4 linked regions of the Homo sapiens genome follow. The protein of the gene in region 3 interacts with the protein of the main gene of each other region in a biochemical or structural test. Each region holds a gene or a part of one and is shown on either strand. Other genes may lie near its edges. The genes, in order: LYN, CD2, PTPRC and LGALS1.

Evidence for each region.
Region 1: the proteins of PTPRC (region 3) and LYN form a complex in vitro, tested with the Homo sapiens proteins (one study listed by BioGRID).
Region 2: the proteins of PTPRC (region 3) and CD2 form a complex in vitro, tested with the Homo sapiens proteins (one study listed by BioGRID).
Region 4: the proteins of PTPRC (region 3) and LGALS1 form a complex in vitro, tested with the Homo sapiens proteins (one study listed by IntAct).

Annotation. Positions count from the first base shown.
Region 1 is NC_000008.11:55,994,824-56,001,854, reverse strand, and holds part of LYN (tyrosine-protein kinase Lyn), read right to left. Parts: intron 3,510-7,031; coding exon 3,356-3,509; intron 2,438-3,355; coding exon 2,306-2,437; intron 1-2,305. UniProt on the Homo sapiens protein: Non-receptor tyrosine-protein kinase that transmits signals from cell surface receptors and plays an important role in the regulation of innate and adaptive immune responses, hematopoiesis, responses to growth factors and cytokines, integrin signaling, but also responses to DNA damage and genotoxic agents.
Region 2 is NC_000001.11:116,764,417-116,769,747, reverse strand, and holds the end of CD2 (T-cell surface antigen CD2 isoform 2 precursor), read right to left. Parts: coding exon of another isoform or gene 5,265-5,331; coding exon 5,142-5,264; intron 1,285-5,141; coding exon 965-1,284; 3' UTR 519-964; downstream 1-518. UniProt on the Homo sapiens protein: CD2 interacts with lymphocyte function-associated antigen CD58 (LFA-3) and CD48/BCM1 to mediate adhesion between T-cells and other cell types. CD2 is implicated in the triggering of T-cells, the cytoplasmic domain is implicated in the signaling function.
Region 3 is NC_000001.11:198,712,037-198,719,067, reverse strand, and holds part of PTPRC (receptor-type tyrosine-protein phosphatase C isoform 1 precursor), read right to left. Parts: intron 6,116-7,031; coding exon 5,996-6,115; intron 2,387-5,995; coding exon 2,228-2,386; intron 975-2,227; coding exon 766-974; intron 1-765. UniProt on the Homo sapiens protein: Protein tyrosine-protein phosphatase required for T-cell activation through the antigen receptor. Acts as a positive regulator of T-cell coactivation upon binding to DPP4.
Region 4 is NC_000022.11:37,671,455-37,678,645, forward strand, and holds the start of LGALS1 (galectin-1), read left to right. Parts: upstream 1-4,181; 5' UTR 4,182-4,248; coding exon 4,249-4,257; intron 4,258-5,531; coding exon 5,532-5,611; intron 5,612-7,028; coding exon 7,029-7,191. UniProt on the Homo sapiens protein: Lectin that binds beta-galactoside and a wide array of complex carbohydrates. Plays a role in regulating apoptosis, cell proliferation and cell differentiation. Inhibits CD45 protein phosphatase activity and therefore the dephosphorylation of Lyn kinase.

The sequences.
Region 1 (7,031 bases), on a different chromosome or scaffold from region 3:
CAAGCCTCAGGGGCCATGGTAGCACATCACATGCAGCACACCACGCATATCACAAAACATTCTTTTATGAGATTGTATGTTTATCAGGTGTCAGATTATATACATAATCTGACTATATAATCTTTCTCTACAGACAGATTATAGAAAGAGATGTAGGCATAGATGGAGATAGAGATATATAACATCAGACACTGGGGCTGATTAGAAATATTTTTCCTATTTTGCAGCAATGTTAATTCATTAATCTCAGTGTCTAGAGCAGCTGGAAGATGAAATGCTGGCACTAAAGGGATTTCCTGGGACAGCCGGTCCACTGTGCAGGCAGACACCACCCAAAGGCTTTCAGCTGCCAACTGGTCCCTGCCCCAGTTTCTCTGTGGCTCATCCCCACATGAAACAGTAGTGATGGGAGCACGCAGACTGTGTGGCTGCTCTGTCCAAAAGCCTTCCCTGGTTTGCATCTCAGCAGAGTAAGAGGGGCTGCTCTTACATGGCCAGTAAGTCTCTCCCTGAGCCACTCTAACCCCCAGCTACATAGCCTTCTTTCTCATCCATCGACTGTCTAGAGATCAAATGGCCTAGGTGCGTCATTCATTCATTCATTCATTCACCCATCCATCCATCAAATACTCACAGAGGCCCAAACCACGCTGGCCTCCTGCTCCTGTTGGCCAAGCCCATGCTCTGGCTGCTCTCCCCATGGGGACATGCAGACCTCAGAGAGCCCAAGACTCCCTCCCTCTGTGAGTCCCTGCTGCTGCCAGGACCATGGAATAAAACCAGCAGCTCCCCACCCCCTTCTGTGAGTACTCGCCAATCCCTAAGCCACTCCACGCAGGCTCCACACTACTCTCACCACCCTACAGGATGGCTGTGTGTTTGATAAACATCAGTCTCTCCCCACTACAATATTCACTCTCAAGGACATGGGCAGATACCATGGCATCCTAGCAGCTGAGAGTGCCTAGCATACTCAAATATTTTTTGAATAGGAGAAAGATTTAAACATTAAAAATTTAATTTTAAATTCCCCTCATGCAAATATTTTGTTAATAGTCAAACATAAATGAAAATATGAAGGCTCTGGGAGAAATCCCTCTTTTTTTTTTTTTTTTTTTTTTTTTTTTGAGACAGAGTCTCACTCTGTCGCCATGGCTAGAGTGCAGGGGTGCAGTCTCGGCTCACTGCAACCTGTGCTTCCCAGGTTGAAGTGATTCTCCTGCCTCAGCCTCCCAAGTAGGTGGGATTACAGATGCCCACCACTACGCCCAGCTAATTTTTTGTATTTTTAGTAATGACGGGGTTTCACCATGTTGGCCAGGCTGGTCTCGAACTCCTGACCTCGTGATTCACCCACCTCAGCCTCCCAAAGTGCTGGGATTACAGGTGTAAGCCACTGCACCTGGCCGAAATCCCTCTTCTTAACCATGCCAGCACAGACCATGGAAAAATGGAGGGATGGTCAGAATCTGGCTCTGCAGGCTTCAGGTGTTAGGAATCTGGAAATAAATACTGAATGATGCCCTCACTGATACCAGTATGTTAAAGAGCAGAAGGGCCTCCCACTGATAAACAAAGGTGGTTATTTCTTGAAGAGAGAGAGACTCCAGGGCACTTATTACAAAACCAAGCATCGGAAATCCTTGTCTCCATGTGGGTTTCCTCCTTCCAGTCAGGGGGACTGCCTTGGAGGAGCCCCTGTGTCTATCCATCCTCATCTCGACACCAACAACCATGCCCGGAACATTCTAGTATGTGGTGGAATTAATCAGTGCAGAACAAGAACACACACTCAAAATAAGGAGGCAAAGAAGTGTCTAAGCACTCTTAGAACAATTTATGCTAAAGATAGTGAAAATAAAAATCAAGTCTTTTTTTTGTTTCGAGATGGAGTCTCACTCTGTCGTGTAGGCTGGAGTGGAATGGCGCGATCTCAGCTCACTGCAACCTCCACCTCCCGGGTTCAAGCAATTCTCCTGTCTCAGCCTCCCGAGTAGCTGGGATTACAGGCATGCGTCACCATGCCTGGCTAATTTTGTAATTTTAGTAGAGACGGGGTTTCTCCATGTTGGTCAGTCTGGTCTCCAACTCCCGACCTCAGGTGATCCACCTGCCTCGGCCTCCCAAAGTGCTGGGATTACAGGCGTGAGCCACCATGCCCAGCCCGTGAAAATCAAGTTCTGGCTCAAAGCACTTATTCTTTGCTATCGGGTAGATGAAGTAATTATTACTTTTTAATGCCTTCATGCAACCTGACTTTTTCTCATTTATACAGCTTGATTGTAAATAGCTAAGTAAACCATACCTGGGTAGGGAATTTTCCCATAGGTGACAATTTCGTATAGGAGGATTCCAAAGGACCACACATCAGACTTAATAGTGAAACATCCAAAGTTGATTGCTTCTGGAGCCGTCCACTTAATAGGGAACTTAGCACCTAAGGAAGAAGATATGTGGTTCTTACTTGGGTATTTAAACTTAAACAAAAAAGTCATGAACATGTGACCCCATACTTTCTTTTCTTTTCTTTTTTTGAGGCGGAGTTTCACTCTTGTCACCCAGGCTGGAATGTAATGATGCGATCTCGGCTCACTGCAACCTTCACCTCCCAGGTTCAAAATAATAAAATAATAATAATCCTTGTTCAACAATGCTTAGGAATTTCAAGAAAGTGCTTGTCTCTTCCAGAAGACAGTGAGCACTGCAAAAATATTTGCTCAGCTCTCGTGGGTGAGAGCATAAGAATCCTCAGTCATAACCACGTGGGCAATCCTAGCCCAAGAAAGGCCCTGCAGTCCCGACCATGCTTGGCCCCCTGACAATGTGCCACAGGCTGGGGAACTTAGGCCTCTCTGTGCATTTTTGGTTCATATATATAATACAGAATGTGGGAAAATAAAGAAGTAGATTTTTTGCATTATATTTAGTTCTGTGTGTATGGTAATGTTCATGTTTTAATTTGTAATTAAAAGGCTGGAATAAACAATATAGAATTAATGTTACAAATATTTTCTCCACAGCCCCGTATATTATATTCATTGTTTGAGTGAAAACTTTAACAATACAAAATAAACAAGAATCATCTTGCTGAATCTATTTGTGTTTTGCATTGCTTAATTGAAATACAACTGATAGCATTTGTAAGCCTAACAAAAGTATCATGTGGAGTTAATCAAGAGAGTACCTTCTAGAAACTATTAGAATAGAACCATAAGCAGACAATTATGGTACAGCTTAAATGTTGTACCAAATAAGTTTTTCTTAATGGTGACTATTGTAATTGCTTTGTCAAAAACAGACAAAAACAAAATAAAACACAATAATAAAACATCTAAAGATCATTAGTGCAACATACCTTCCCTTGCTGTGTACTCATTATCTTCAATTACTCTAGCAAGGCCAAAATCTGCAATTTTGCACATGAGTGACTCGGAGACCAGAACATTAGCTGCTCGCAGGTCCCGGTGAATGTAGTTCTTCCGCTCGATGTATGCCATTCCCTCTGCAATCTGAAAACAGAAATAGGCTCCCATTTTCATATGTAGGGTAGGTGACTGGAAAGTGCCATCAAGGAAAACCGGAAAACTTATGAATTCCTGAAATCTTTTCATGTATACTATTTTGATCATTCAGCTTTTAAAGACAGTGGGTAATGGCAATCACCATTTGAGCCCTTTCTAAAATAACTGACCACCCTCTGCCAAATCTCCAACAATGGTCATCTTAAAAAAAAAAAAAGGAACATGTCTTAACATTTTCTTTTTTTTTCTTGAGACGGAGTCTCGCTCTTTCACCCAGGCCGGAGTGCAGTGGCGCTATCTTGGCTCACTGCAAGCTCCACCTCCTGGGTTCACACCATTCTCCTGCCTCAGCCTCCCGAGTAGCTGGGACTACAGGCACCCACCACCATGCCCGGCTAATTTTTTGTATTTTTAGTAGAGACGGGGTTTCACCATGTTAGCCAGGATGGTCTCGATCTCCTGACCTCGTGATCCGCCCGCCTTGGCCTCCCAAAGTGCTGGGATTACAGGCGTGAGCCACCGCGCCTGGCCATGTCTTAACATTTTCTAATGTGTGAAGAATCTTTTCAAGACCCTGCTAAATTCATCCATGTAGATACATAGATGTTATTATGCCAGTTTCTCAAATCAGAAAACAGATGCTATGGTCTGAATGTTTGTGTCCCATTCCCCGCCCCCTACCCCAAAGTTCAAATGTTGCAATCCTGAACCCCGAGGCAATAGTATTAGGAGGCAGGGCCTTGGCAGGTGATTAGATCAGGACGGTGGAGCCCTCACGAATGGGATTAGTGCCCTTGTAAAAGAGACCCCAGAGAGCTGCCTTGCCCCTTCCACCACGTGAGGACACAGCTATATGGTGCCATCTATGAACCAGGAAATGGCCCCTCATCAGACATGAAACCTGCCAGGGCTTTCCTTGCCCCTAAACTGTGGGAAATAAATGTCTCTCGTTTAAGCCACCCAGTCTATGGAATTTTATTATGGCAGCCTGAACCAACTATGAAAATAGAGTTGGAGAAAGTGACATGCTAATACAAATAAATTATTAAGGTATCAAGAACAGGATGTCGTTTCTGTCAGGTTAATCAACAGCCCATGGAACTGGCTCTCCAAGTTCTCTCTGCACATTCCCTCCAGGACAATCACAAAGATTCACTCTTTTTTTTTTTTTTTTGAGACAGTCTCACTGTCTCCCCCAGGCTGGAGTGCAGTAGCATGATCTCAGCTCACTGCAACCTCCCGCCTCCTAGGTTCAAGTGATTCTCCTTCCTCAGCCTCCCGAGTAGCTGGGATTACAGGCACGCACCACCATGCCTGGCGAATTTTTGTATTTTTAGTACAGACGGGGTTTCACCATGCTAGTTTTTGTATTTTTAGTAGAGATGGGGTTTCATCAGGCTGGTCTCAAATTCCTGGCCTCAGGTGATCCACTCACCTCAGCCTCCCAAAGTGCTGAAATTACAGGCATGAGCCACCACGCCCGGCAAGATTCACTCTCATGACAAAGTATGACAGCAGGAAAGAATCCAGGATTTAAACACAACAATAACATAGGGAGGCAAAACTACTACTCGTTGCTGAATAGAAAGTGTAGTATCGTTCCAAAGTCAGGTTTTTAAGGAAGACATTACCAAATTATAAAGTTAAGGAGAAGGAAGGAAGAAAGGAAAGGAAGGAGGGAAGGAAGGATGGAAGAAAGCAAGCAAGGAAAGAAGGAAGGAACAAGGAAATGAAGGAAGGAAGGAAACAAGGAGAGAGGAGGAAAGGAGGGAAGTAAGAAGCAAGAAAAAGGGCAAGAAGTAAAGAAAGCCAAGTAGTAGTTTATCTGGTAAGCAGTTAGAGAAAACTCTGATTCGAATTTTTCACACAGGAATGAATGTATTCTGCCAGATTCTACCTTGAATTGCAGGTGGCTCGGCTTGGAGGATCTGACTTTCCCCAGTCATCTGCAACAGTATCCCTGGTAATCAAGCACTTCAGGCCGCCAGTTCCAGACCACGTTGCTTAGCAAAAGATTAGCTCCTTGGTATTGGGTCTGCCTTTGCTTCCCCTCTAGGCCAATCCCTGGCCTCACCTTCTGCCCCGTGGGCCTTCCCTGAACTCCCCTTTACTCACCCTAGATGGTCAATGTGTACAAAAACCATCTGCAGCTGCTGATCACAGCTTTGTCATTATTTTTATGCTGTTTAATGCTCTCAGTGGTGTCATGTTAGCCAGTTGATAAACACCTCTAGGGCTGAAAATATCTTTTCTATTCTCACTTGTATACATTGGAGCCTTCAAACTTGTCACCAAACCTCTTATCAGAGACAAAGTAAGTCCTTTGGGAAATGGGCTGGGGTTTTCACATGACCAGAATACTATCTTGTTAGCCCACTACTACAGGGATTTGGCAGATGATATTCTCATGGTCACAAAAATCTCAAGTAAAATAATCAGTGTGGCCTACATCAGTCTCAAAGACTATTCAGTCCAGTATTTCACTTCCGAGTGGAAACAAAGAATGTGGTCCAAGCTCCTTTGCACTGCTGCCAAGGCCCCGTATGACCCGGCCCCGGCTCAGCCCTCCACCTCCTCACCACGACCCCCTCCTTTGTGCTTCTACACCCCCTGCCTCTGTGTGGAACGCTCATTCCCTCCCTGCCCCTTTCACCCGACCTATGCAGTTTGCCTGTCTCAGCTGAGATTTTACTTCTCCCGGAAGCCATGCCTGGCATACCCTCTCCTGCCAGGTGTGCATGCATCCCCAGTGCTCCCTGCTCCTCACCTGACTACCTGTCCACAATTTCTGCAGGAACATGAACCCATCCCAGCACTGAGCACAGCACAGCACTAAGCACAGCAGGAGGCTTCATTTCATGAGGGACTTGAGAAGTGGGACAGAGGCTGAGTGGAGCAGAAACCAGACGGACAGTAGGAAAAGGACAGGGCAGGTTTGGAGAGCAGTGACTTCGTGTCCCCTGCCTTTCTCCCAACTGTCACAAACCCTGAGCACTGGGGAGATGCACAGCTTTTACCTGACCCTGGAAAAGATTCAAACAGCCTTGATGGGAAGTCAACAGAAGGTGGGCAGTGGTGATAACCAGGTGAAGGCAGAGCTCCTGAGTCTGACTTTCTCTAGGAAGCCTCTGCTGCCCAGAAACAGCAGGCAGTGGCATGGTGAGGGCGTCAGGAAGTTCAGGATAGCTCCTTCTAGAGTGGGCACTACTGAAACAGATGACACGGGGTGGCAATTTTGGTGGCGGCTGGGAGAGAGGAGCCCTGCCTCTGTTTCCTTTTGTCTGCTGGTAACCCAAGTTCAACAAGACTTGTTAGAAAAAGCCAGTAAAACTGGGAAAAGTGGAGAGCGAAGATCAGGCTGAGCATGTGTGAAAGAAAGGAGTGTACGATTATAACACAGTAGGCTTTTGGCGATAGAACCACGATGCCTGGCTCAAACAGACCAGAGTTGGTTACAGGAGCCCAGATGAGACAGCAGCAATTGAGCGGTCATAGCTGACTCTGTCCCAG
Region 2 (5,331 bases), about 82 Mb from region 3:
AACTATTTTTTTCTCCCCACTTCCCTCAAAGTACAGCTGCATGACTGCTAGCTGGGGATGGGGTCTGACCTTTTAATCATAGTCATTTAAGACACTTAAGATTTGATTCAACTGAGTTGTCTCTTAGCCTATCTTTTTGTATGTCATCTGATGAGTTCATGACACCTCCAGTATCCATAGATTCCCTTGTTTTGAAGGATGACAGTACAGGTCATTATGACCGTGTCTGAACAGTCAAGAAAGTAAGACCTAAAATGTTAAGTTTTCTGGTGACTCCTGTTAACGTTTGTGCATGGAGGCTTTAATTCATTATGGAAATCTACAAATAGGTTGTTGGACCCAGCTTTGCAGCTGAGACCTGGGGAGCATGTTCGGGTCATTCTGGTGAGGACTAAGGAGGTCTCAGCCGGATTGAGTTGACTGAATTTGATCCTGCTGTCACACCAGCGAGGCTCTTTCTTATTCGGCAGCTTCCTCTCCTCGACACTGGGATCCTTCACACAATGAGCAGACACGGGTCTAGTCAAAGCTTTTATTTCACTTTTACTCACAGGATGGTGGGCAAGTGTCCACCAGGGCACATAAGAAACTCCAGAGTCTCTTAAGCAGATAGGCTGCTTGTAGTGAGACCCAGGCACACCAATCACTTGATTTATCGCATCTACACATGACCTGAGAGGGGACAAGAAATCTCTAAGATTTCTGTGCTCGGTCCTCTACCATTCTTGCAATCACACTTATATTGCTTCTCCTTACTGGTGTGATGGAGCTCTCTGAGGAGACCAAAAACTCCAGATGTTGACCACATGGCTGAGTTCGAAGATGCAGAGGTGGCTGTGGCCCACAGCCTCAGGAGGTGACAATGTTCTGCACACAGAAAACACCTCATGGAAGTACGGATATGCACATCAGGAGGGCAGAAATCCACAGTGCTTTTTATTGAAAAAGACAGTTTCTATCTTTTTTAATTAGAGGAAGGGGACAATGAGTTTTCTGCTGCCCCATGGGGAGGTTTTGGCTGAACTCGAGGTCTGGGGAGGGGCGGGCCTTTCTGCTGGTGAACTTGTGTGCCCGACGGAGCAGGAGGCCTCTTCTGAGGCTGGTGCTGAACACGGTGTCCAGGAGGCGGGGGACGATGACTAGGTGCCTGGGAACGATGACCAGGTGGTGGAGGAGGATGTTGGGAAGTTGCTGGATTCTGAGGGGTTGAAGCTGGAATTTGGTGGGGCTTCCGGCCCCTTTCTTCAGTAGCTACTCTGTGGGCTCTTGTCTCCAGCTCCTCATCTGCAACAACAAAACCTCAATAGAGTTCATCTTGGCCAGGTGAAATCAATGTAAATATTGAGTACCTTTTATATGCAAGGCGCCATGCTAGCTGCTTTGGGGGATGCAATGAGGAAGCAGAAGTTGCCCCTACTATCTGAGAACTCTAAGCTTGTAGGAGAGAAAGAAGTGCTCACCATAAGGTAGAGTGAAAGCCTAGGACAAGAGAACTCAAGGAATCAGCAGGAAGAAGACACATGGGTGGAGGGCTTTGTGCCTGGGGCTCCCATGATCAGAGAGAGCACGCAGACCTGGAACCCTACCTCTGTGCTGACCTAGAAATTGTTCCCTGAGAGCAAGAACCTCATGGTTAGAGCGCATGGGAAGGGGTTATGAGCAGTCATGGAGGATATTAGTAACTACATTCCTTCTGAGGCATTTCTATGTTAGATCTGCCTTTCCCCCAATTCTACTGTCATGCAATCCACCTTCCGGCAAGAGGTTGGAACACATGCAAGGAACTTTTTGTCCTTAGAAATTTACTCGCTTCTCAGAAATTCAAGACCTATGTTCTTGGCCTTAGGAGGGAAAGAACTCCTCCTCTCCTCACCCTTCAGGATTTTCTTCTTTGTGTGACTTCAGTCCATGAAAGCAGGCCTACAGCTACTCGTAATGTAGTTTTTCCTGTACTCTTAAAATCACAGGGAATCTGTGAAGGTGCCCAGCTGCTAGAGGCCTGGAGCACCCTGCTGGCCCCTCTGGACTCCTTTAGGCTGTAAGTTAGGTATTTCAGTCCCTGCACCCAAGGCCGTCTTTGCAGTGGCTCCAGAGGGAGGTAGGAAGAGAAGTTTTTCCCTGGGGTGAAATAATTACCTCTTTTTTTTTTTTTTTTTGAGTTGAAGTTTCACTCTTGTTGCCCAGGCTAGAGTGCAATGGTGCGATCTTGGCTCACTGCAGCCTCTGCCTCCCAGGTTCAAACAATTCTCCTGCCTCGGCCTCCTGAGTAGCTGGGATTACAGGCGTTCACCACCACGCCCGGCTAATATTGTATTTTTAGTAGAGATGGCGTTTCTCCATGTTGGTCAGGCTGGTCTCGAACTCCCGACCAGGTGATCTGCCTGCCTTGGCCTCCCAAAGTGCTGGGATTACAGGTATGAGCCACCGCACCCAGCTGAAATAATTACCTCTTACATCTTTATGGAGATGTGTGGCTGGGGAAGCACAAGCCCTCTCTAAGCATCACCCTGTAACTTCCGGATGTTGATTCAAACCAGATGGCCTCCTCTGACTACATGAAATGTGAGCATCAGATGGCTTTGAGTGTAGAGTCAAAGTTAGACAATGTGATTTTGATACCTAAATGGCTCGTGTGCTCTAAGCACAAAGAGGAAAGGGCCTCCAGAAAGGACAAAACACATCCTCTATGCCATCTTCCGTGCCCTGCAGTCATTGCTTAGGTTATGTCCAGTAGACTGTGGAGAGGGCTCTAACCCCTGGCCCTAGTTCTGAATTATGGGGCAGTGGGTGGTCCTTCTTCATCTCCTATGTGGCAAGCTTGCACTGGCCATTGGTTTACTACTCTGTTCACCCACTATTTTTGTTTTTTATTTGTTTTGTTTTTTTGAGACAGGGCCTTGCTCTGTTGCCCAGACTGGAGTGCAGTGTGTGATCGTATCTCACTGCATTCTTGATCTCCCGGGCTGAAATGATTCACCCACCTCAGCCTCCTGACTAGCTGGGACTACAGGCATACACCAATGCACCCACCTAATTTTTAAGTTTTTTTTTTAAAGTAGAGACCAGGTCTCACTATATTGCCCAGGCTGGTCCCAAACTCCTGAGCTCAAATGATCCTCCTGCCTCGGCCTCCCAAAGTGCTGAGATTACAGATATGAGCCACCACACTTGGCCCATACACCATTTGGTTCATTTGTCCTTCCAACATTTATTCCTCATCTTCCAAGTGTTAAGTGTCATTGTGACTTAGACACAAATTGTCCTCAGGAAGCCTAAAATCAAGTAAGAGGCAAACAAGAACTGAAAATCGCAATGTCAATTTCTGTGAAGAGCCCAGGGCCACCAGAAAGTGTAGACAGAGGCACATGAGCTCTGGTAGGAGGAATGGGGTGTAGCCACATGGCTGAGACTGCAGGCAGGGTTGGACAGACAAGGTTGGCTACGGCTCTGTGCACCCTGCCTGGTTCAAGCAGGACAGTGGGTCCTCAGCCTACCCACTCCAGCAGCTGCAGCTGGCGCCTAAATGTGTGCTCCCAGGAATTCCTCCAGGCTCATTGTCCTTCTCCCTTGTTTGCATCTCCTGGTTACTCAACCCAGGGCATGACTGGAATGAGGCAAGCGAGGCTGACAGGCATGCAGTTTAAAGACACACCAACTTTCAGGTTGTGCAAGGGCAGGCCAGCCTCCTTAAATTCTATGCCTTAAATTCTGGGCTCCTTGCCTCGGCCTAGGCCTGAGTCAACCTACTGGCCATAGGATTTAAGGCAAATAATTGAACCTCACTGAACTTAAGCTTCCTCATCTGTGTTGTTATCTATCTCCTAAGATCACTCTGAAAGCTGGATGCACTAATAGACATAAAACACAGAGACTAACGACTTTTTTATCAGCATGAGCTAACCATCATTCTTCTCAGCCTGGTGATGGCAGAGATTGCCTTGTCTTGGGGTGACAAGTGAGGTCCACCTTGGAAGAAGATATGGTCTTTGACCATTAGTCAATGGAGAAGGAGCATGGAGAGGAGCATGGAGAACAGCCAGAGCTGGGCACAGAGGAGGATAAGCCAGGCATGCCTAAGGGCCCTGCCAGCGATTCTGCTGTGCTGTGGTGGAAAGTGTGGGACAGTCGTGGTGGGAAGAATGGGACTAAGTTCAGGATGATGTTTCGGGGCCTGGGCTGGGGGTAGTGACGTGATGGGACGTGGGGCTGAGGGACCGCAGCCTGATGGGGAGGCAGAAGGAGAACTGAGGAAGAAATCTGAGGTAAAGAAGCCAAATCCAGAGGGCACGGGGCCCAAGGCCACCGGTGCCTGGGGAAGTTTGGACCACCTCCCTGGGCAGCACTGGAAGCAGCTGGTGTGGCTGTGCCTGCCGGTTCTAGGGAGAGACCAAGTCCTGCTGTGAACGTGAATTGCAGAGAACCCCAGGGCCTGTTCCCTTGGCTGCAAGTCCCGCCAATGGCTGACACCCTCATCTGTGCCCCCCACAGTGACCCCGGGTTGGCCATTCTCTGAAGTGTTCTGCCTTGGGTGGCCTGGATGCTCCCTAAGCCGGCTCCCCACTTGCAAGCATAACCTTTTCATTGCTGATAGATTGTCAGACAGGCCTGATCTGAGGAAAAACTCTCAACCCTAACACATCCCTCGAACAGAGAATTAGCAAAGGGGGCACAGGCACCCTGCTTTAGAACAGCTGTTTTCCTGTGACTACCTGATGACCTGAATGATTTTCCCTGTGTTTCTAGGAGCTTGGTCCTGAACTCACCTTGGGCCACCCATAGATAGGACATTTATTCCTAGAAACGGTGTTTTGGAGCTAACCTTTCTGCCTATGTAGAGAAGTGTGGCTCATTCAAAAGATGTTCACATTAGCCTGTCACCAAGTAGGCCTCAGTGGTGGATTCCAATGAGGCCAACTGGATTCAGTGTCTCAAAGCTCCCACATTGTCACCACTAAGAATTTGTTTTTCAAAAATCAAGCTAACCACAAAATGAAACAAGCTATAACCGCTGACTACAACCCTGACATTCCGAAACTACCTATTTCCATCATTTTCTCTGCAGATTCAAGGTGTCATCCCCATGAGCTGTTTCATGGGGATTTTGCTGGGGCCTGCGGTGGGACAAAAGAGGGGGAGCTTACCATTTCTCCGACTCCTCTGTTTTTTCCTTTTGGTGATATAGAAAACGAGCAGTGCCACAAAGACCATCAAGAGGCTGCCTCCTCCACATATGCCAATGATGAGATAGATGTCCAGACCTTTCTCTGCAAAAGGAAGAGAAGTGGGATGGCTGGGAGGGGTCCAGGCAGAGAGCCCATTACTCTGGCCAAG
Region 3 (7,031 bases):
AGACATTCAAAAATTTTGCTTTACCAATAAGTGTGTTATCGGAATGTTGTTTATATTAGAGACCAACATAGTTATAGTTAATAGAATGTGATAAAGCCATACATAGAATATTATACAGGCATTAAAAACTACATAGTAGTTAAATATTTAACATAGAAAGGTGTGTGTGATATAGTGATATATTAAAAATACAGTTTTAAAACTGTATTTTGAAAACTGTGTACTCAGAATGTTGATAATACGTGTTAAGTGCATATAAATGTGTATATTATGAAGTTACATGTACAAAATACGATCAGTAGACAGTGAGATAATGAGTGTTTTAAATTCTGTATGCTCACTAGTATTGTCTAGTGTTTATTTCAAATATTTCCTAACCTCAAGGTACCTGTGAAATTTTGCAATTGAAAAATTCCACATTAATAAAGATAAAAAGCCAAAGTAAAGAAAAGGTAGATTTGGTAAAGTAATAATCTGTTGTGCATAAAGTGTTGTGCTTCTTAACACAGAAGCAATAATTTAGCTATAATTAAGTCATATTGAAGTTCTAAAATATTCCAATGAAACATTTGCTTTAAACCACTGACTTGAGCTATAGGAATAAAAATTTTAGAGTCAAATATTTGAGACTCTTTAAGTGTGATTCCATTACACATCAGAGCTTCTCAATCTCATGTGAGCAGTGGTCTTAAAGTTATTTAAGTACTATGAATCAATCATTATAATGTAGTTGGTACTATAGTAATGTAGAGAGCATACTTTTACCTTAAAAGTGTAGTCTGTTGAATATTGAAGATCTTTTACACGGAAATCGCAATTCTTATGCGACTCATTTCTAACCAGAGTATTTCCAGCTTCAACTTCCAAATGGTAACGTTCATGGGGGCCATTACGGTCCCTGGGAGGCCTACACTTGACATGCATACTATTATCTGATGTCATGGAGACAGTCATGTTCCAGACCTGGCTTGGAGCTATCAAAATGAAGAAAGATTTGTTATTAATAATTTAATAGATGCATATGTAAATTACTTGACAATACTTGGATATAGTATAAAGTATTTTAAGTGTTAGCTTGGGGGTTATAAATAAGGAAGTTATGATAGTACATAAATTAAAAAACAATATCAAAACCCTGAAGAATAAATCACTCATTTATTCAGTAAGTATTAGCATATAGGTTGTACATGAAGCCATGAGAGTTATTGCAATCCCTGAAGGAGACTGTGTAGAATTAGAGAATAGAGAAAAAGGGAAGGGAGTGGGGAAGAGGGGGAAGTTTGGGGAGAGGAGAGGAAAAATGTTGTTGATTGGGAAACCTCCAAGTCCTATTACACAATCTAGACCCTTCTTTCCCGGAGTGCTAATGTTATCCTGGTAAACACCTAGATGGGTTCTTCAGGAACAGAAACAAATTGTCTTCTTTTTCTGTGATACAGAAACTCAGGAAAACAACAAAAGCATAGAGCTCCAGGACCAGAACTTTTCAAACCAAAACCTAAATGACCTTAAAAGTGTCTTATATTCAGCCCCAAATAGCACAATATTTCTTCACAAGTCTAGTGCCCGTTAGGGTCTCTGGAGCTATAGATGCTGCCTTAAAACACGGCATTTCTTCTTCCCTGTCCTCGATGGAGGTTAACATGTGCCCCAGAAGCAGATCTAACTTTGGGCCTGGAAACTATGGAGAGATTATACTAGTGGCAAGAGCCAAATGCCATTGAAAGGAAACCTTAAATGGATAATGTGACATAAAATAGAATAGTAAGTAGTTGAGGGTAACGAAGAGAAGAAAATGCTAATAAAATATTACATTTTATGAAATGTTTTATCAGATGAACAGAGGTTAGTAGGCTAATGCTTTATGAGACATTGTTAGGTTTCTGATTACAATTAATATTTCCAGATAGTAAAGACAACAGCAAACAGTGAATGTTTTAATCTAAGTTGGTTAAGTACTTAACTGCATGAAATTGCACAAACTGATGCCAATTAAGATGCTTTTATGCTTTGTCCTTAAAATTCTATGACTATATCTGAAGAAGAGAGAGAATCCAGGATAACGGTTTTTAAACTTTTAGATTTTACGTGTTTATAAGCCCTAGATGTTAACAAATGTGCCAGGTAAATGTGCTTGCTAGAATAAAGATAGAAATATTGTAGGCTAAAAAGTTCATACCTTGCTTTTTACCATTTATGGAAAGAAGCATTAAAACATATAACTTACGAGCACTTTTAGTTGTGAAATGACACATTGCAGCACTTCCATTACGTTGCACTTTTGCAATGATGTAGGCATGTAATGATAAAACATATTTCGTATAAGGTTTTAAATTTTGCAAATCATATTTGATCAGGTTTTTATCCAGATTGAGGCAATCTTTTTCTGAGGAAAAATGTGAAAAAAAATTAGTAAGTCGTTAAAAGTCAGTACTACCACGTACCTAATTAATTTGGTCTCTACATCACATTGTTCCAAGTGAACTCCAAACTATTGAGTGATTGAAAAATAAGTACATCCTTGATACTCAAAAGTACCTACAATTATCAGCCAGTGTATTGAACAAACTCAATTATCATTGGTAAAATTAAATATTGAAAAATTATGGTTTTATATCATTAATTTGGTACATAAAATATTTAATAAGTTCAGATTCATTTGTGAAGACGATCTCTTTTGTTTCTGAGAAAACACAGCCCCCAGTGTATACTGTAAGTCTTGAGTTGCATGTTTCAGAATGATTCTTTTTTAGAAAACCTTTTCTGATATGTAACCTCCAAACTTTGAACATCGGTATTAGCTACTGTTTTGAATGTTAGATGCAGAATCCATTTGATCATCAGTCATTGGGTTGATTCTATCATAGTAATTTGGACACTACAGTAATTAACGGGAGCTGTGAGAATGAGGGAGTTTCATGCCGGAAGTGGAATTCAGCTGTTCATTGAAAGGTAAGTGGAACTGAATACATGTAAGGGAGAAAAGAAAATATTACAAACGGAAGAAGGAATGTTTTTGAGTTTAGTGACAAACCTGATCAGGACAACAGCTCTGGCTGGGGAGGCATATGAGAGGTAGGACAGTGTCTAAGTGTGTTTTCACACTCAGGCAGAAGACTTAGCACTTGTTAAGTAAAAAAATCACCAGCTGCTGCTATTTTTGAGTAGCCAAGTGACATCAGGAAAGAGGATGATTAGAGTGGCAACATGTTTCTGGATAGCAGCAACAGTAATAATAATATCAATAACGATTTTTAAAAATAATAACTCACTGTATGTGCCAAGCACTGTTTCAAGGGGTATACATGAAATAATTAATTTAACCATCACTGCAACTATTAGTTGGTACTCACTATCATCTGATTTTACAGATGACAAAACTGAGCCACAGAGAGATTAAGCAATTTGTTCTGTTTTTTTTTTCTTAAAAAAATAAAAGGCATTACACAAAATAATTTCCAGCAACATCATGGTGGTCTTGAAAGGTGCCTATTGCTTTCAGTAACTTTTGAAAAATAATCCTTTAAATCCAATAAAGCACAAAAGATCTCTTCCCCAATTCCCCAATTACCAAGAAGCTTCACTGTCACTTGCCATCATTAAGTTAACGAGATAAAACTGCAGTTCTCCAAAATATCTTAAGCTAAAAATGTGAGGAAAAATAAACAAACACACTTTGGGAGGCCGAGGCGGGCGGATCGGATCACACGAGATCAGGAGATCCAGACTATCCTGGCTAACACAGTGAAACCCCGTCTCTACTAAAAATACAAAAAAATTAGCCGGGCGTGGTGGCGGGCGCCTGTAGTCCCAGCTACTAGGGAGGCTGAGGCGGGAGAATGGCGTGAACCTGGGAGGCGGAGCTTGCAGTGAGCCGAGATCGCATGACTGCACTCCAGCCTGGGCGACAGAGGGAGACTCCCTCTCAAACAAACAAACAAACAAAACCAAGAGCAGAAAGGAAACAGATCAAGCTACTGAACTTGAACATCTATCACATTTTCTGTTAACCTCAGTTTCATCATATGAACTATGAAGATATGTATGCACATCTCCACTGAGTTATTAAAATAGTTGATAAAATCTTTAAATAATACATAATTAAAAAAACCTGCTAAACCAATAAAACTAAATTAATGTCAATTGCATTTTTTCTCCTCTTTTAATCCCTCTCTTTTAGAGACACTGAAAAAATTAAATTGTGAAGTAATGAAGTGAAATTTAATATCTGATTAAAAAGTAAACTGCAAATTTCATAGACTTTCTTCCTGTGGATTTTTAATAGTAATTTTATTTAAAATGGTGAGAAAAGTTAAGTTGCCTTAACGATACTATAATCCTATCAACTCTCTTTGCCTTAGGTAACATGGGAGAGGAGACAGGTATATGTTTGAGATGAAGGAGAAAACAAAAGCGGAGCACGCTGTTTAGAGTAGAGCTGGCTCCAAAGAGCCCTTTATGCAGTGTCAGGGCATGGTCCAAAGCTGCATTCAGTCACCAATCGGCAGCTTTGGAGAAAAGAAAACACACAGCCTGATAGCTAGCCTCCCCTTCTCAGCCATTCAATCCCGTTTAAGTGTTCTATGTGGACAGCTGTTAAATTTGGGTAACACTATTTAGTTGCCCAATAAGAAGGACCCATGCTAGTTGCTGTAATGAGTTGCTACTAACTCATTACATCCTTTTTACCCTAATTATGCAAATACAGTGGAAATACAGTTTAAAAAAACTGTAAAAATATAAAAGAGCCATAAATGCATAAAATGTCTACCATATACTCTGACATCGACAATACTCTCTAGTAGAGAGAGTGTAGACATTGAGGAATGCAGAAAGGGATAGTGAATAGAAGATTCAGAGAAGAGAAAAAAAAAATGAACAATGTGTTCCCATAGAAGCTACACAAAGTGTTTGTAAAAGAGGTGTCCAATGAGGCAGACAGTACCTCTGCTGTTTTATCTTCCTGGAATTTCCATTTTTCCTTCCACATAGACTTAACTTTTAAATTTATCATAACCTCAAATATATAGTATATATTTATTTTCCTTGGCCTTTGAATGTTAATTTGAAAACTACATGCATATTTAACTTTGCTTTAGTAGTCTGATTATTAAGACCTAAAGACACTAGCAAGAAAAGGCCATTAAAATATAAAATAACATAATGAAGAAAAATAGCCTTTCACTTTTCAAGTTTTGAAGTGTATGTCTGGTTCCTTCCCCACAGCACAGAGTGACAGAATTCTATGAGGTTCACTTCATTCCTATTTTAACCTATGGATAAAAGAATAGAGAAAGGGCTATCCCAGGCATTGAGGCTGCTCTGAGATACTCCACTGATGTTACTTTCTACAAACAATTTAGATACTTTAAATTGTCCAGAAGATATTTGTTCTCTTAAATAGCATCTCATTTGAACATTTCATGAGTGAACTAGTCATAGCACATTTCTTTCTTCTTCTTTTTTTTTTTAATTGCATTACTTCTGCAGAAGTCTAATTCTAAACTTAGAACTATGCTCCCAAGATTACACCAAACTGGCCCCAGCGGCTACATGGGCCCATGTTCATTTTTATTCACCCAACATTTTGTCTGTATTATTAGCTGAAACAAGTTTTACAAGGGGTTTGCTTGTTTGTTGGTTTGTTTAGGAGGCTGAATGATGAGTTCAAAGTGAGTCAAATCACTTACATAATACTTGCAAGACAGAAATGAGTGTTGTCATCCAGAGGTTTTCTGTCTCTAGGCTTTGGAGCACAAAGATTTAAACTAAGACCAAGAAGGACAAGCAAATATTTAGAATGTTCTGGATTTTAGTCATTTCTGGGGCTGGAAAGCTTTGAATGAGTGGAAGCAATTCTAAGATCAGGGAGTATACTATGCCTATGCAGTCTCTAAGCAGAGAGCTTTGTGACTCACTGGCTCAATAAAAATTTCTAGTACTTTCAAATTCTTGATTTCTCTTTTCTGATGAAATTAAATTCTACACAAATTACCTGTCTCTTTTATATAACAGAGGGTAAAATTATGAAATGATCTTTGAGGGGGATTCCAGGTAATTACTCCTTGATGTGCAGCTTCACTTCTACAAAAAATAATCTGAGGCTCTCCTGGACCTGTTAAAAGAATAAGAATGTTATGTAATATGAAAAATAAGACATGGATAAAGCATTCTTCATATTATAAGCATGCATTATTGATAACCATATTTTGACAAATGATGAATTCAAAATAAAATTTAAAGAAATGCATCTGGGCTCATTTAATTTGTTTTAGAGTAAATTCCTTTAACAAAGTAAATGTCACACCAGATTGGCACTGTGAAACCTAAGCATTCCACTGACTTGAAGATATCTAAGAACCCCCTCTTCCTTTCATATACATTATTCATATATATTCTTGCCCAGATACTACCTAAAAATCCTGGAATTTGTAGATTTTGCTGTGCTAAAAATCTGGCATTCATAGCACCAATAAATTTAGCAGTCATTGAGTAGCACTTGTCATTGCTTCCAGTAACTAGTCATTTGAAACTGAGAAAAACTGATAAATGTTTAAATAAAATGTCTGAAGTAAAATTTACATTAAAATGTACCCATTTGAGATACAGTTTAATGCATTTTTAACAAATGTATACATCCACATAACCAACACCACAATCAAGATAAAGAAAATTTCTGTGATCCCAAAATGTCCTTCTGTGGTACTTCCCAGTCAACTCAGCTCCTTTGACCAGACTCACGTACCTTCTGATCAACTTTCTGTTAACTACAGATTAAGTTTGTCTTTTTACCCATTGCATGTAAATAAAATGAAACAAACAGTAAGTACTTTTTCACTCCTAACATATTGCACTCAATGTAATGTTCTGAAGATTCATTCACTTAGTTGCATGTGTCATAGTTAGAATTTTAAAAAATTATCAGTAGTTATTGTAAAGATACACCACATTTTACCTAGGATTCAACAGTGAATACACATTTGGGCTGTTTCCAGGTTTTGGCTACTATGAATGCATCTGCTTTGTCATGT
Region 4 (7,191 bases), on a different chromosome or scaffold from region 3:
CCTACCTTCCCTGGCTGGAGCACCCAGGTTGGCTGCGGGTGTGGATGGCGCCTCTGTGGGCCGCCCTCCTTCAGCACCGCCAGCTGAAGGAGGTACAGCTTCCCTTTCCCCGCCTCTGCCCCCTGTCCCTGGCAGGGCGGGAATGACCGAGCTGGCCTGGATGACTTGTCTAGACCAAGCTGAGCCCATTTCTCATGGCAGCAGCCAAGATCCAGCCCAGGACAAAGGAATTCCAGAGAGCTCACTGCCTCTATTTCAGGACAGTTATAACGTGGGGAGGAGAATCCCTGGGGTGGTGGCCTTAGCCTGGGGGATGCAGGAGGGAGCACTAACATCGAGCCCCTCCTTAGACATCACTCCTATCATCCTCCAAGCAGTGGCCTTATTCCCATCTTCCAGGCCTGGAAACGGGTTCAGAGAAGCCAAGGACCTCAGCTACAGCTGCAGCCACTCAGCCCCCAAACCAGAACTCACCACTCGTCTCATCTCCTGATTCTTTTTTTTTTTTTTTGTGATGGAGTCTTGCTCTGTCACCCAGGCTGGAGTACAGTGGCACTATCTCGGCTCACTGCAACCTCCATCTCCTGTATTCAAGCAATTCTCCCTGCCTCAGCCTCCTGAGTAGCTGGGGTTGCAGGCACCCGCCACCACACTCAGCTAATTTTTGTATTTTTAGTAGAGATGGGGTTTTGCCATGTTAGCCAGGCTGGTCTCGAACTCCTGTCCTCAGGTGATCCACCCACCTCAGCCTCCCAAAGTGCTGGGATTACAGGCATGAGCCACCGTGCCCGGCCTCTTCTGATTCTAACTGCAGCTTCATTTCCCTGTGCAGAAATTCAACCAAGTTGGCAGACACAAAGTAGGGGCGAGGGGAAGATGAGAGGGGAGATAATGAAAGCAAGGCGCCGGGCACAGGGCCTGGCAAGATAAGTGGGCGCTGCCACTAGGAGGCCCTGAGGACTAGGGGGAGGAGGCCCACGATGCACCTGTGTCCCTGCCTTCCCTCCCCGCCAGGAAAACCGCAGCTCCTGTCACAGGGGACACTGGAATCTGGAGAGACTTCTTGCCCCAACCTCGGCAAGAGGAGACTGTTGGGGACCTGTTGGGCATGACATGTAGACCTCCCAGAGGTGCTGCAAAGACCTAGGGAAGGTAACAGCCTGGGAAGAGACAAGAAGGAAGTGAAAACCTTCTGAGCCTCCATGAAAACACGAATCATCTGTTTAGTACAACAGACCTCAGTTCCACCCTGTATTCACCTCGTGCAAGGAAAGCAGGATTTCATCTCCCCAATTTACAGATAGGGAGACTGAGGCAAGTGGGAGAAGCAGCTTGCCAGGAGGCTCTGAGGGGACATAGCAAGCAGGGCCAGCACCCGCGTGTCTAGACTCCCAAATAGGCCTTTCTAGGGACCTCTTCACCATGCCACCCTGCCTCCCTGCCAGCCCCACTCATGCCAGACGCTGCAGAGGAGTAAATTGTCCCTCCATCCAACAGCAAACAGTCCCTGATGCCGGGCCCATTTTCCAGGGTGGAGGAGGATGCAGGAGCAGCTCCTGAGGCTACAAGAACCCAATTATTGGGCTGGGCTGGGAAAGTGGCCACACCCACCCGCCCGCAGCCCGGCGAGGACCACACCTGAAGCGCCTCTGACCCTCGGTCTAGGACTCCGCCTGAGATGCCCCATTCCTTGATCTGGCAGAGAGGGGAGGCATGGGGGAGGGGCAGTGGAACTAGGCTGGGCCCCATCCAGCCCTTCCTATGGTTGAGGTTTTGGGGAGGCCCGGAGGAAAAAGTGAAGCTGCTGTGGTTGGTTTCCAAGCAGCCACTTGGTCTGGAAGGAGGGGTAAGGCACTCACAGGGGTGCAACCCCATCCCCTCTCTGGGTCCGCCTTGCGGCCCTACACACTCCCCTCTCATCCTGTACCAGAGTGGGCTTTGGGCATCTGGAGGAAGGTGCCCCTGAGAGGCAGGGTGGGTGTGTTGGCCTGGCTTCCAGATGTGAGTCACTCCTGGTCCGCATCTTCGTCCCTCTTTGGTGCCAGCAGTTTCAGAAGGGGGACGGCCAGGTGGAGAAGGAGGTCCCCGTGACAACCCCCCAGCATGCCCCTCATTTTGCCCAGTGCTCCCCACGCCCCTTCCTCCACCAGGTTCCTGAGTGTAAGGTGAGCACCCCTCCCACCCACCCTCAATTCTCTGCCACAGTGATCTTCCCTAGAGCCCAAATCTGGCCTCAGTACTCACCCTCCCTCTAGCCCTGGCTCCCCAGCCTCCTCCCATACAACAATGTCCAAGCCCTGTGCCCAGCCCATGAGGCCCTCCATGGTCCAGGTCCTGTTGGCTTCCCAGCCTCATCCCCGTTTTTCCCCCACATGCCCGGAACACTGTTCTCCAGCCCTGGCCTTCTCATTCTGGAGCTTCTGCCCATGGTGGAAAGCCAGGCACTTCTCCGCCTACCCTTCACGACCCACCTCCTTTACTCATGCAGCCGCCAGCCCACCATAGCACTTTCTCATGGCTTCCCTTACAGCCATCATCATCTACTTCTTTTTATTTTTATTTTTATTTTTTATTTTTTTTAATTGAGACTGAGTTTCACTCTTATTGCCCAGGCTGGAGTGCAATAGACTGATCTCGGATCACTGCAACCTCTGCCTCCTGGGTTCAAGCGATTCTCCTGCCTCAGCCTCAGGAGTAGCAGGGATTACAGGCATATGCCACCATGCCCAGCTAATTTTGTATTTTTAGTAGAGATGGGGTTTCTCCGTGTTGGTCAGGCTAGTCTCGAACTCCTAACCTTAGGTGATCCGCCCGCCTCGGCTTCCTAAAGAGCTGGGATTACCGGCGTGAGCCACTGCGCCCAGCCCATCATCTACTTCTTAACGTGGTTGTGGTCAGATTCCACCCCAACTATGCGCTCCTTGAGAGTGGGGACTGGGAGGGGTTCAGCTTTGAATCCTCAGAGCCCAGGGCCAGGTACATAGTAGGTGCTCAGTAAAATACCTGCTGAACACTCAGGGAAGGGAGGGCTGTGCCGGGCCTCAGAGGAGATGTTAAGAGAGCAGACAGGGTGGCCAGGCATGGTGGCTCACACCTGTAATCCCATTACTTTGGGAGGCTGAGGCGGGTGGATCAACTGAGGTCAGGAGTTTGAGACCAGCCTGGCCAACGTGGTGAAACCCCGTCTCTACTAAAAGTACATAAATTAGCCGGGTGTGGTGGTGGGGGCCTGTAGTCCCAGCTACTCGGGAGGCTGAGGCAGGAGAATCAGTTGAACCTGGGAGGCAGAGGTTGCAGTGAGCTGAGATCACGCCACTGCACTCCAGCCTGGGCGACAGAGCGAGACTCCATCTCAAAAATAAATATATAAATAAATAAAAATAAAAAAGAGAAAGGACAGGGTGCACAGAGCCAGGACCCCACCCCCTCCTGGTCTGGACCACCCTGGGCCATCTCCTAAGCTTGACACTCTCAGGCCTGAGGCTGTCAGGCCAGGGCGCTTTGACTATCCCCTGCCTGCCCCTGAACGCGGCCAAGCCCGAGGCCTTAGCCAAGCCCTGCAGCCTCAGGCTTGGCGCCCGGCCCAGCCTTTCTTTAGCCTTCCCGAGGAGCCAGCGAGAGAGCGCTGCAGCAGCCGCAGTCCTTGCTTCCGGGGAAGGCCCGGGTGGGGCCAGGGCCTGTGGTTAAGTCAGTGGCCCTCTGCAGACGCGCACGCAGCAGGAGCCACGCCCTGGTCCCTGCCCGGGAGTGGCCTGGTCTCCCCCAGCTCTGATTCCCTGAAGGACCCTGCACCTCCTCAGCCATCTTCTCTGGGCACCCCCTGAGCCCAGCCTGCTGGCCACAGGCCCCTTCCCGCCAACTTGTGGGCCTAGCTCATCATCAAACTATTTTCCACTGGCTTCCCCCAATCTCTGCCACAGCACAATTTTGGTGGGGAGGTGGAGAGGGATGAAGGAGAATAGGAGGTGGAGCTTGGACTCTGGCCGGGGGCGGCGGGGTGAGGGGGGGCAGCAGCTCGCCACTCTGATTGGTCACCTCTGCTCCAAAACTGGCTTCAAAATTCCACGGACTCCGCCCCCAGTGGCCCCCAGCCCTATCCTGACTTGCAATTGGCTGAACTTTCAGGGGGCGGGGCTCACCCGGTCCGGTCCAGTTAAAAGGGTGGGAGCGTCCGGGGGCCCATCTCTCTCGGGTGGAGTCTTCTGACAGCTGGTGCGCCTGCCCGGGAACATCCTCCTGGACTCAATCATGGCTTGTGTGAGTGTGGGGACCCCCCCCCAAGGTCCAGGGGATAGGGCAGGAACTGATGGCCAGAGGAGAGCTGGGCAGATCGGGAGCAGATTCTAGCCCCAGCTGTGTGGCCTGGAACCAGTGCCTTCTCTTTTCTGGACCTCAGTGGCCACATCTGTAAAATGGGGGTGGGCGCCATGGTCCCTCAAGGCCTTCTCTGCATTGATAATTGTCTGGATTCCTCCAGGGTCTGAAAGCACAGTTATTTCTGCCCAGGGTTGACATTCTGCAGCTCTCTGAGAAGTGAGCGTGGGAAGGGTGTGGCCAACTGGGGGACACCCAGGCCACTATCCCTTTCCCCCTCCTCCACCCCAAAGAGCCTCCTGTCCCCTCCCCCCTGCAGCTGTCCCGGTCACCAGGCCAGGGCAGAGTTACCCTCTGCTCCAGAGAACGCTGAAAAGTTGCCAGGACCCGAGACAAGCTGCCCAGGATGGGCCCTTCTAGGTCGGGGGTGGAGGGTGGTTGTGTCCAGGCTGGTGGCGGGGGGGGCGGGGGAAATTCCCTTCCACCACCCCCAAGCTGGGAGGTTGGGGTGGCAGGGAGGTGAGAATCTTCCTCGGGCCCCAGGGAAAGGGTTCAAGTTTCTGGCAGAAGAAACCACTCAAACCAGTTAACTCTTGCCCACCCACTCGGGGTGCCAGGGAACAGCAGTGCCCAGCAGTTTGCTCAATCTTGTTAACCCTGAGCCAGCCCAGCCACAGCCCGACTGCAGGGCTATTCTCCCTAATGCAGAGAGGCCGTGTTTTTCAGGGTCTCCTCTCTAGCCCCTGGGCCTCTTTGCAGAGAGGGGCTTGAAGGAGAATAGTGGGGTCGCCCGCCCCTAGCCACTTCCTCTCCAGCAGAGGGGCCGGCCCCTCCATTCAGTGTGACGGTGGGCCAAGTGTCGGCCCCTCCCCAGCCTGATCCTCTCCATCTGCGATGGGACAGAGCACCCCATCTCCCAAGTCACTCTTGAGTCCAAAATTCCCAAGCCAATCTGCAAAATCTTCTAGAGCCTGTCTTCTAGAACCTTCACGTTACAGACTGAAGCCAACCCCGGTGGGAATAGGGACTTTCCCAGGACCACATAGACAATCGGAGGCTGGAAATTACAGCTCAATCCTTTCCCCAGGCTTCCCCTTGGCTTGGTCAGAGGATGCCGGGCGGGAACAACCCCACTCCCACCCCCAGCCACCCCCGGACACTTCGAGCAGTGGAGGCCTTGTCCTCTAACCCGGCTGGGCCGGGGCTTGTCTGTGCAGGGTCTGGTCGCCAGCAACCTGAATCTCAAACCTGGAGAGTGCCTTCGAGTGCGAGGCGAGGTGGCTCCTGACGCTAAGAGGTGAGAAGTGAAGTCGGGGTGGTGGGCGGCAGGGACGGGCTTGGTCCAGCAGGGAGGGCGTGGCCGGCCAAGCCCACATCTCCTCCCTGGCCGGGAGCGGGTTAACGGCCAGCCGCCGATGCTGCGTTTTCTGGGTGACTCACTTCCCCCGCAGGGTCTGGGCGCCCCCACCGTTGCCGCCCCCTCCCCCGCTCCCTCCCTGCTGTAGCCTCTTAAACTAAACCAGCTGCAGCCTCGTCATCTGTAATACCTTGACTCCCCCGCCCCCACCCCTTTCCGGTCTGGGCGGGACCTGTCGCTGGGGAGGGCGGGGAGAGGAGTGGGGCGGGCGTCACCGCCGCCTTCCCCCTGAGTCCCTCCTTCCTGCGTCTGGTCATTCATTCATTCACTGGCTCAGTCCGGTCCTTCTTCCTTCACTTCTCATTCACTCAGACGGCTGCCTTATTTTCTCGGCAGTTAGGTGACCTTGGACCAGTCAACCAACCTCACCTAGCCTCAGTTTGTTAGAAAAACAAGGGGGGAGGTGGTTGTGTGGAGGAAGTGAGATGCGGCTGGCGCAGTGACAGTGAGGAGGATGAGGATCAGCTGATATTGTTAAGAGCCGCACACTTCTCATGCACTAATTTCATTTCAACCAAACCCTCAGAGGCAGGTATTGCTATTATCACCACTCAACAAATGTATTTATTATTTTATTTATTTATTTATTATTTTATTATTTTATTTATTTATTTTTTGAGACACAGTCTCACCCTGTCGCCCAGGCTGGAGTGCAATGGCGTGATCTCGGCTCACCACAACCTCCGCCTCCCGGGTTCAAACGATTCTCCGGCTTCAGCCTCCTGAGTAGCCGGGATTACAGGGGCCCACCACAACGCCCAGCTAATTTATGTACTTTTAGTAGAGACGGGGTTTCACCATGTTGGCCAGGCTGGTCTCGAACTCCTGACCTCATGATCTGCCCGCTCGCCTCGGCCTCCCAAAGTGCTGGGGTTACAGGCATGAGCCACCGTGCCCGGGAGTATTATTATTATTATTTGTTAATTCGCCCCATAATTACTAAGCATCTTTTTCTGGTGTGCCCCACTTGTGCTGGGCACCGGGAATACAGAGATGTACAAGACAGGACGGGAGGTCACCATCTGGAGGGAGTCACTGACCTTGACCAAACGGGCTAGGATGCTAATGACTTCAAGAATCAAGCGAGCCCTCCTGTGCAGCCCCCATTGTACAGATGAGCAAACAGGGGAAGAGGGGCAGGAGCAGGTGGCATGGCCAGAGCTAGAATCCAGGTTTCTTGTCTCTGTTAGTGAGTTCTTCCAGCAAGGTGCGTTCATGGGATACTGAGTGACAGATTAGTCGGTCAGTGGGGCTGGAGCTGGCCGAGGTGGCCTCATGCCCACCCGTTACCCCCCAGCTTCGTGCTGAACCTGGGCAAAGACAGCAACAACCTGTGCCTGCACTTCAACCCTCGCTTCAACGCCCACGGCGACGCCAACACCATCGTGTGCAACAGCAAGGACGGCGGGGCCTGGGGGACCGAGCAGCGGGAGGCTGTCTTTCCCTTCCAGCCTGGAAGT